2 linked regions of the Homo sapiens genome follow. The protein of the gene in region 1 interacts with the protein of each later gene in a biochemical or structural test. Each region holds a gene or a part of one and is shown in the gene's direction. Other genes may lie near its edges.

What was found.
Region 2: the proteins of WDR76 (region 1) and NRAS form a complex in vitro, tested with the Homo sapiens proteins (one study listed by BioGRID).

The regions. Positions count from the first base shown.
Region 1 is NC_000015.10:43,864,713-43,868,639, forward strand, and holds the end of WDR76 (WD repeat-containing protein 76), read left to right. Parts: intron 1-1,415; coding exon 1,416-1,680; 3' UTR 1,681-3,700; downstream 3,701-3,927. UniProt on the Homo sapiens protein: Specifically binds 5-hydroxymethylcytosine (5hmC), suggesting that it acts as a specific reader of 5hmC.
Region 2 is NC_000001.11:114,703,746-114,706,875, reverse strand, and holds the end of NRAS (GTPase NRas), read left to right. Parts: 3' UTR 1-2,407; downstream 2,408-3,130. UniProt on the Homo sapiens protein: Ras proteins bind GDP/GTP and possess intrinsic GTPase activity.

The DNA.
Region 1 (3,927 bases):
GCCTCCTGAGTAGCTGGATTACAGGCATGAGCCACAATGCCTGGCTAACTTTCCTATTTTTAGTGGAGATGGGATTTCACCATGTTGGTCAGGCTGGTCTTGAACTCCTGACCTCAGATGATCCACCTTCCTCAGCCCCGCAAAGTGCTGGGATTATAGGCATGAGCCACTGTGCCCAGCCAGTATTATGTATATTTATTTTATTTTTTAATTTTTAATTTTAATTTTTTGAAATGGAGTCTCCCTCTGACACGGGGGCTGGAGTGCAGTGGCGCGATCTCAGCTCGCTGCAACCTCCACCTCCCGGGTTCAAGCAATTCTGCCTCAGCCTCCCCAGTAGCTGGGATTACAGGCAAGCACCACCATGCCTGGCTAATTTTTGTATTTTTATTTTTTTTTTTGAGACAGAATCTCACTCTGTTGCCCAGGCTGGAATGCAGTGGTGCAATCTCGGCTCACTGTAGCCTCCATCTCCTGGGTTCAAGCAATTCTCCTGCCTCAGCCTCCCCAGTAGCTGGGATTACAGGCAAGCACCACCATGCCTGGCTACTTTTTGTATTTTTATTTTTATTTTTTTTGAGACAGAGTCTCACTCTGTTGCCCAGGCTGGAATGCAGTGGTGCAATCTTGGCTCACTGTAGCCTCCATCTCCTGGGTTCAAGTGATTCTCCGGCCTCAGCCTCCCTAGGAGCTGGGATTACAGGCACCCGCCACCATGGCCAGCTAATTTTCCTATTTTTAGTAGAGACGGGGTTTCACCATGTTGGCCAGGCTGTCTCGAACTCCTGACCTTGAATGATCCACCCTCTTGGCCTCCCAAAGTGCTGGGATTACAGGTGTGAGCCACTGTACCTGGCCAATTTTTGTGTTTTTAGTAGACTGGGTTTCGCCGTGTTGGACAGGCTGGTCTCGAACTCCTGACCTCAGGTGTTCCACCTGCCTCGGCCTCCCAAAGTGCTGGGATGACAGGCTTGGGCCACTGTGCCTGGCCATATTATGTATATTTTTAAAAAATTTATGTAGGGTGACTATTCTAGGGGGTAAGAATTTTCATTAATGATGGGGTCATTTAAGTGGCAGTGGGAAATGTGTAGTCCATACTTTAATGAAAAAGGATTGTTAGTGATATTAAGGCAAAAAGACTAAAAGGGCAGTACTTCTGTTTTTGCTTTTGGGAACTATAAAGGGCTCCATATGTTTTATTTTGGGAGATTTTTAGATGAGGAGGATATCGTCTCTGTCCAGAGGTTCAGTCCTGTAAGGATGAGGTAAGGTTGGTGGTAACTCAGTAACTTAATGAGAAGAAACTTGGCAGAGAAAACTAGCATTTAGGAGCAATGCCGTCTTTACCCTCTGCCCAATGCTACCTTATTTAACCTTACTTCATTTAAAAAATATATTGTTTTCCTCACTAGGCACAACACTTTCACTGGGCGATGGCTGACCAGGTTCCAAGCCATGTGGGATCCTAAACAAGAAGACTGTGTCATAGTTGGCAGCATGGCCCATCCACGACGGGTAGAAATCTTCCATGAGACAGGAAAGAGGGTGCATTCGTTTGGTGGAGAATACCTTGTCTCTGTGTGTTCCATCAATGCCATGCACCCAACTCGGTATATTTTGGCTGGAGGTAATTCCAGCGGGAAGATACATGTTTTTATGAATGAAAAAAGCTGCTGAGTTTTTGGTTTAGGAACATCAATTTGTTCAAATTGACCACTGTCTAAGGAGCCTAGTAATCGGCGTGCCTTAGTGTGTTTATGTGGTAATGTGTTACATTTAGCAATTATAACATTGTTTTATTAATAAGACTATAAGAAGAGTGTACTTTTAGTAAGGGAGAAGTCTTGGAGGGTTGCTTCTGCAGGACGGGGAGGGAATTTGAGGGGAGGCTGAGGTGCCGTCAGGACTTTTTTTTTTTTTTTTTTTTTGAGATGGAGTTTTGCTCTTGTTGCCCAGGCTGGAGTGCAATAGCGCGATCTTGGCTCACCGCAACCTCCGCCTCCCAGGTTCAAGCGATTCTCCTGCCTCAGACTCCTAAGTAGCTGGGATTACAGGCACCTGCCACCACGCCTGGCTATTTTTTTGTATTTTTAGTAGAGATGGGGTTTCATCATGTTGGCCAGGCTGGTCTCGAGCTCCTGACCTCAGGTGATCTGCCCGCCTCGGCCTCCAAAAGTGCTGGAATTACAGGCGTGAGCCACCATGCCTGGCCATCAGAACTTGTAATCAAGACAGTATGTTGAGAAATTCTAACATTATAAATTACAAAGCTTTGACTATTAAAGTTTTTGTGATCTAATGATACAGTTTTGATTCTATAGTAATTTGTGGCTTATTTTATAGTTTATAATGAATACTTATTTCTAGACTCATACACTGGAAGGGGACCCGGAAAGGTAATGTAACTCAGTGATTTTAAAACTTGATTTTTTTAACTGAGAACTTTTTTTGCCCCCTGCCTGTAGGTTAAGTCTTACGTGAAATGCCAAGATAATTGCTGAGCAGCTTTGGTTACCCAGGGCGGGGTCTGGGTCTGTCTGTACTTTGCCTTTACTCTAGATGGCTCCTGAGACACAGGCAGGACTCCCAAGCACCGGGTTGGGATCTGCCCTGGTCCCGGCATTCCAGTATAAGATTGCCTCAGACCTGTGTTTTTCAGACTGGGTTTTTGCTCTTCACATGAAATCAAGTTAGATGACAATGACTGGTGTTGAAAAAAATGAAAAGGAAAGAATTTGTAAAGAACAGAAAATATATTTGAGTAAGTATTGTTTGGTAAAACTTAGTTACATATGCATATATATTTGTTAGGTATATATGTTTATGTGTATTCTGATGTAAAATATATATATATATATATTTTATTACTATAGTACCATGGGTAATGGATAAAGAAGTTAAAGCTACTGCTTAGAATGAAGAAGGCCCCAGGCTTACCTGTCCCGATCTTTAAACTGTCCGAAGGAAATTCAATAGCCTGTTAAGTGAATACCTTCATTCTTACTTGTATTTGGGGGAATATTATGAAATACTCACCACTTTTGGTATTTTATGAAAATGTTTTCTTTTCAGAAGTTATGGTAATTTCAATGTGTTTGTTGTTGGGAGGGGAGCTGCCAAATCAGTTACTAATATTACTGTGTGACATCTATCCAACTTTTTTCATTATTCTTCATTGCCAAATACTGAAAGACTTGTAAATGGCTTTGGCAATATGTTTGAATTCTAAGAGGAAATATTTTCCCATAATTGTATATCAGAGAAATATAGTGATATACAATTTCCTTGAAAACCAATTTCTAAATAATTTTCTTCTCTGTAATCTAAGTGTAAAAAGGTTTAGTTTTTTAATAGGTTTAGGTGTTTATAAGCAATAGTTCTCTATTTTCTAGTTGATATAAGTAGAAGAATTGACAAGTGAGATGGAAATGTTAATTTATAAAGGGAAAGAAAAGCTAGGTGAGGTTGAGTTATAATTAAACTGTTCAGGAAACATCGTAAAGGCTTTAGGCTCCCTTTTTCATTTCTATACCAATTAATCTCATGGGTTCTAGAGTGGTTAGTTCTACGGGAATTGTTTTTGTTTTTGTTTTTAAAGATGCTGAAAACTACTCTCAATCAAATTAGTACCATCATTTAAGCTTTGAATACTTGGCAGTAATTGCCTGGGCTCGTCAATAAATGTTAGCAAATTCTTGATGTTCCTCACTTTTGTGGTTTCTTTTGCCATTGTGGCTTCATAAACAGTGCTATTTATATTCAGTTATACTTTATAGAGTTATATCTTCAGGCAGTGCAGGAAGGAAGGAGAATGAGTAGGGACTTTTTTTTTTTTTTATTGGTGATAAGCTTTCTAATGGAGTAATTGTTTAAATCTAGACAGCACATAAAAGAAAATTGTCTCCCTTGGGACATTCTTACACT
Region 2 (3,130 bases), on another chromosome or scaffold:
AGCAATAGGGGCTTGATTATTTCAGTTGAGTAAAGCATGGTGCTAATGGACCAGGGTCACAGTTTCAAAACTTGAACAATCCAGTTAGCATCACAGAGAAAGAAATTCTTCTGCATTTGCTCATTGCACCAGTAACTCCAGCTAGTAATTTTGCTAGGTAGCTGCAGTTAGCCCTGCAAGGAAAGAAGAGGTCAGTTAGCACAAACCCTTTACCATGACTGGAAAACTCAGTATCACGTATTTAAACATTTTTTTTTCTTTTAGCCATGTAGAAACTCTAAATTAAGCCAATATTCTCATTTGAGAATGAGGATGTCTCAGCTGAGAAACGTTTTAAATTCTCTTTATTCATAATGTTCTTTGAAGGGTTTAAAACAAGATGTTGATAAATCTAAGCTGATGAGTTTGCTCAAAACAGGAAGTTGAAATTGTTGAGACAGGAATGGAAAATATAATTAATTGATACCTATGAGGATTTGGAGGCTTGGCATTTTAATTTGCAGATAATACCCTGGTAATTCTCATGAAAAATAGACTTGGATAACTTTTGATAAAAGACTAATTCCAAAATGGCCACTTTGTTCCTGTCTTTAATATCTAAATACTTACTGAGGTCCTCCATCTTCTATATTATGAATTTTCATTTATTAAGCAAATGTCATATTACCTTGAAATTCAGAAGAGAAGAAACATATACTGTGTCCAGAGTATAATGAACCTGCAGAGTTGTGCTTCTTACTGCTAATTCTGGGAGCTTTCACAGTACTGTCATCATTTGTAAATGGAAATTCTGCTTTTCTGTTTCTGCTCCTTCTGGAGCAGTGCTACTCTGTAATTTTCCTGAGGCTTATCACCTCAGTCATTTCTTTTTTAAATGTCTGTGACTGGCAGTGATTCTTTTTCTTAAAAATCTATTAAATTTGATGTCAAATTAGGGAGAAAGATAGTTACTCATCTTGGGCTCTTGTGCCAATAGCCCTTGTATGTATGTACTTAGAGTTTTCCAAGTATGTTCTAAGCACAGAAGTTTCTAAATGGGGCCAAAATTCAGACTTGAGTATGTTCTTTGAATACCTTAAGAAGTTACAATTAGCCGGGCATGGTGGCCCGTGCCTGTAGTCCCAGCTACTTGAGAGGCTGAGGCAGGAGAATCACTTCAACCCAGGAGGTGGAGGTTACAGTGAGCAGAGATCGTGCCACTGCACTCCAGCCTGGGTGACAAGAGAGACTTGTCTCCAAAAAAAAAGTTACACCTAGGTGTGAATTTTGGCACAAAGGAGTGACAAACTTATAGTTAAAAGCTGAATAACTTCAGTGTGGTATAAAACGTGGTTTTTAGGCTATGTTTGTGATTGCTGAAAAGAATTCTAGTTTACCTCAAAATCCTTCTCTTTCCCCAAATTAAGTGCCTGGCCAGCTGTCATAAATTACATATTCCTTTTGGTTTTTTTAAAGGTTACATGTTCAAGAGTGAAAATAAGATGTTCTGTCTGAAGGCTACCATGCCGGATCTGTAAATGAACCTGTTAAATGCTGTATTTGCTCCAACGGCTTACTATAGAATGTTACTTAATACAATATCATACTTATTACAATTTTTACTATAGGAGTGTAATAGGTAAAATTAATCTCTATTTTAGTGGGCCCATGTTTAGTCTTTCACCATCCTTTAAACTGCTGTGAATTTTTTTGTCATGACTTGAAAGCAAGGATAGAGAAACACTTTAGAGATATGTGGGGTTTTTTTACCATTCCAGAGCTTGTGAGCATAATCATATTTGCTTTATATTTATAGTCATGAACTCCTAAGTTGGCAGCTACAACCAAGAACCAAAAAATGGTGCGTTCTGCTTCTTGTAATTCATCTCTGCTAATAAATTATAAGAAGCAAGGAAAATTAGGGAAAATATTTTATTTGGATGGTTTCTATAAACAAGGGACTATAATTCTTGTACATTATTTTTCATCTTTGCTGTTTCTTTGAGCAGTCTAATGTGCCACACAATTATCTAAGGTATTTGTTTTCTATAAGAATTGTTTTAAAAGTATTCTTGTTACCAGAGTAGTTGTATTATATTTCAAAACGTAAGATGATTTTTAAAAGCCTGAGTACTGACCTAAGATGGAATTGTATGAACTCTGCTCTGGAGGGAGGGGAGGATGTCCGTGGAAGTTGTAAGACTTTTATTTTTTTGTGCCATCAAATATAGGTAAAAATAATTGTGCAATTCTGCTGTTTAAACAGGAACTATTGGCCTCCTTGGCCCTAAATGGAAGGGCCGATATTTTAAGTTGATTATTTTATTGTAAATTAATCCAACCTAGTTCTTTTTAATTTGGTTGAATGTTTTTTCTTGTTAAATGATGTTTAAAAAATAAAAACTGGAAGTTCTTGGCTTAGTCATAATTCTTATATTCACTGAAGTGCCTTTATAGAATGCTAATATTAATTTCAAACTTTTGGATGTGACATTTGGAAGTGTTGGAATATCTGAGTTCCTCATTTCATCATAACATCAAATATATCAAAGCCTGCTTTAAAGTATTACCTTGGGGATGATTCATAGCTATTTGTCAGATTTGCATACATTAAGATGCCATTGGAGCTCTTTTGTCTCGTTTTTGCATTACTGCACAATCTAGCCATCTTGGTATAGGTGGAGGAGCATTGATGCTAGGGGCTGGAGAACTTGAGGCCCGATATAATTTTACTACGCCGGCCCAGTTTCTTCAATTGCAAAATAGAAGAGTTGAATTAGGATATATCAGATTTCCCAACCTTAAGGAGACTTTAAAAAGAATAATATCAAACCTAGGCATTTTCAACTAACACTGGAATACTAATTTTGGAGACCTTGGTTTACTCTACCAAAGACATCAAAATTTTTTTTCACTTTTTTTTCTTGAAAAGGAGGCAGGGAAGGTAGGTCATTAACATGTGGCTGAAGTAAGCTTGGGAAAACCAATTTTAAATGACAATATTTTTTCTAGCTAGGACAACTAGAAAGAGTAAATATTTTAATTATAAAATGTATTTGAAAAAGAAATAGAATTAGGGAATTTGTATCTTTCAAACTATCACCTCATATAGAGACCTAGGTGATAGTTTGAGAGAGAAACATACAAAGTC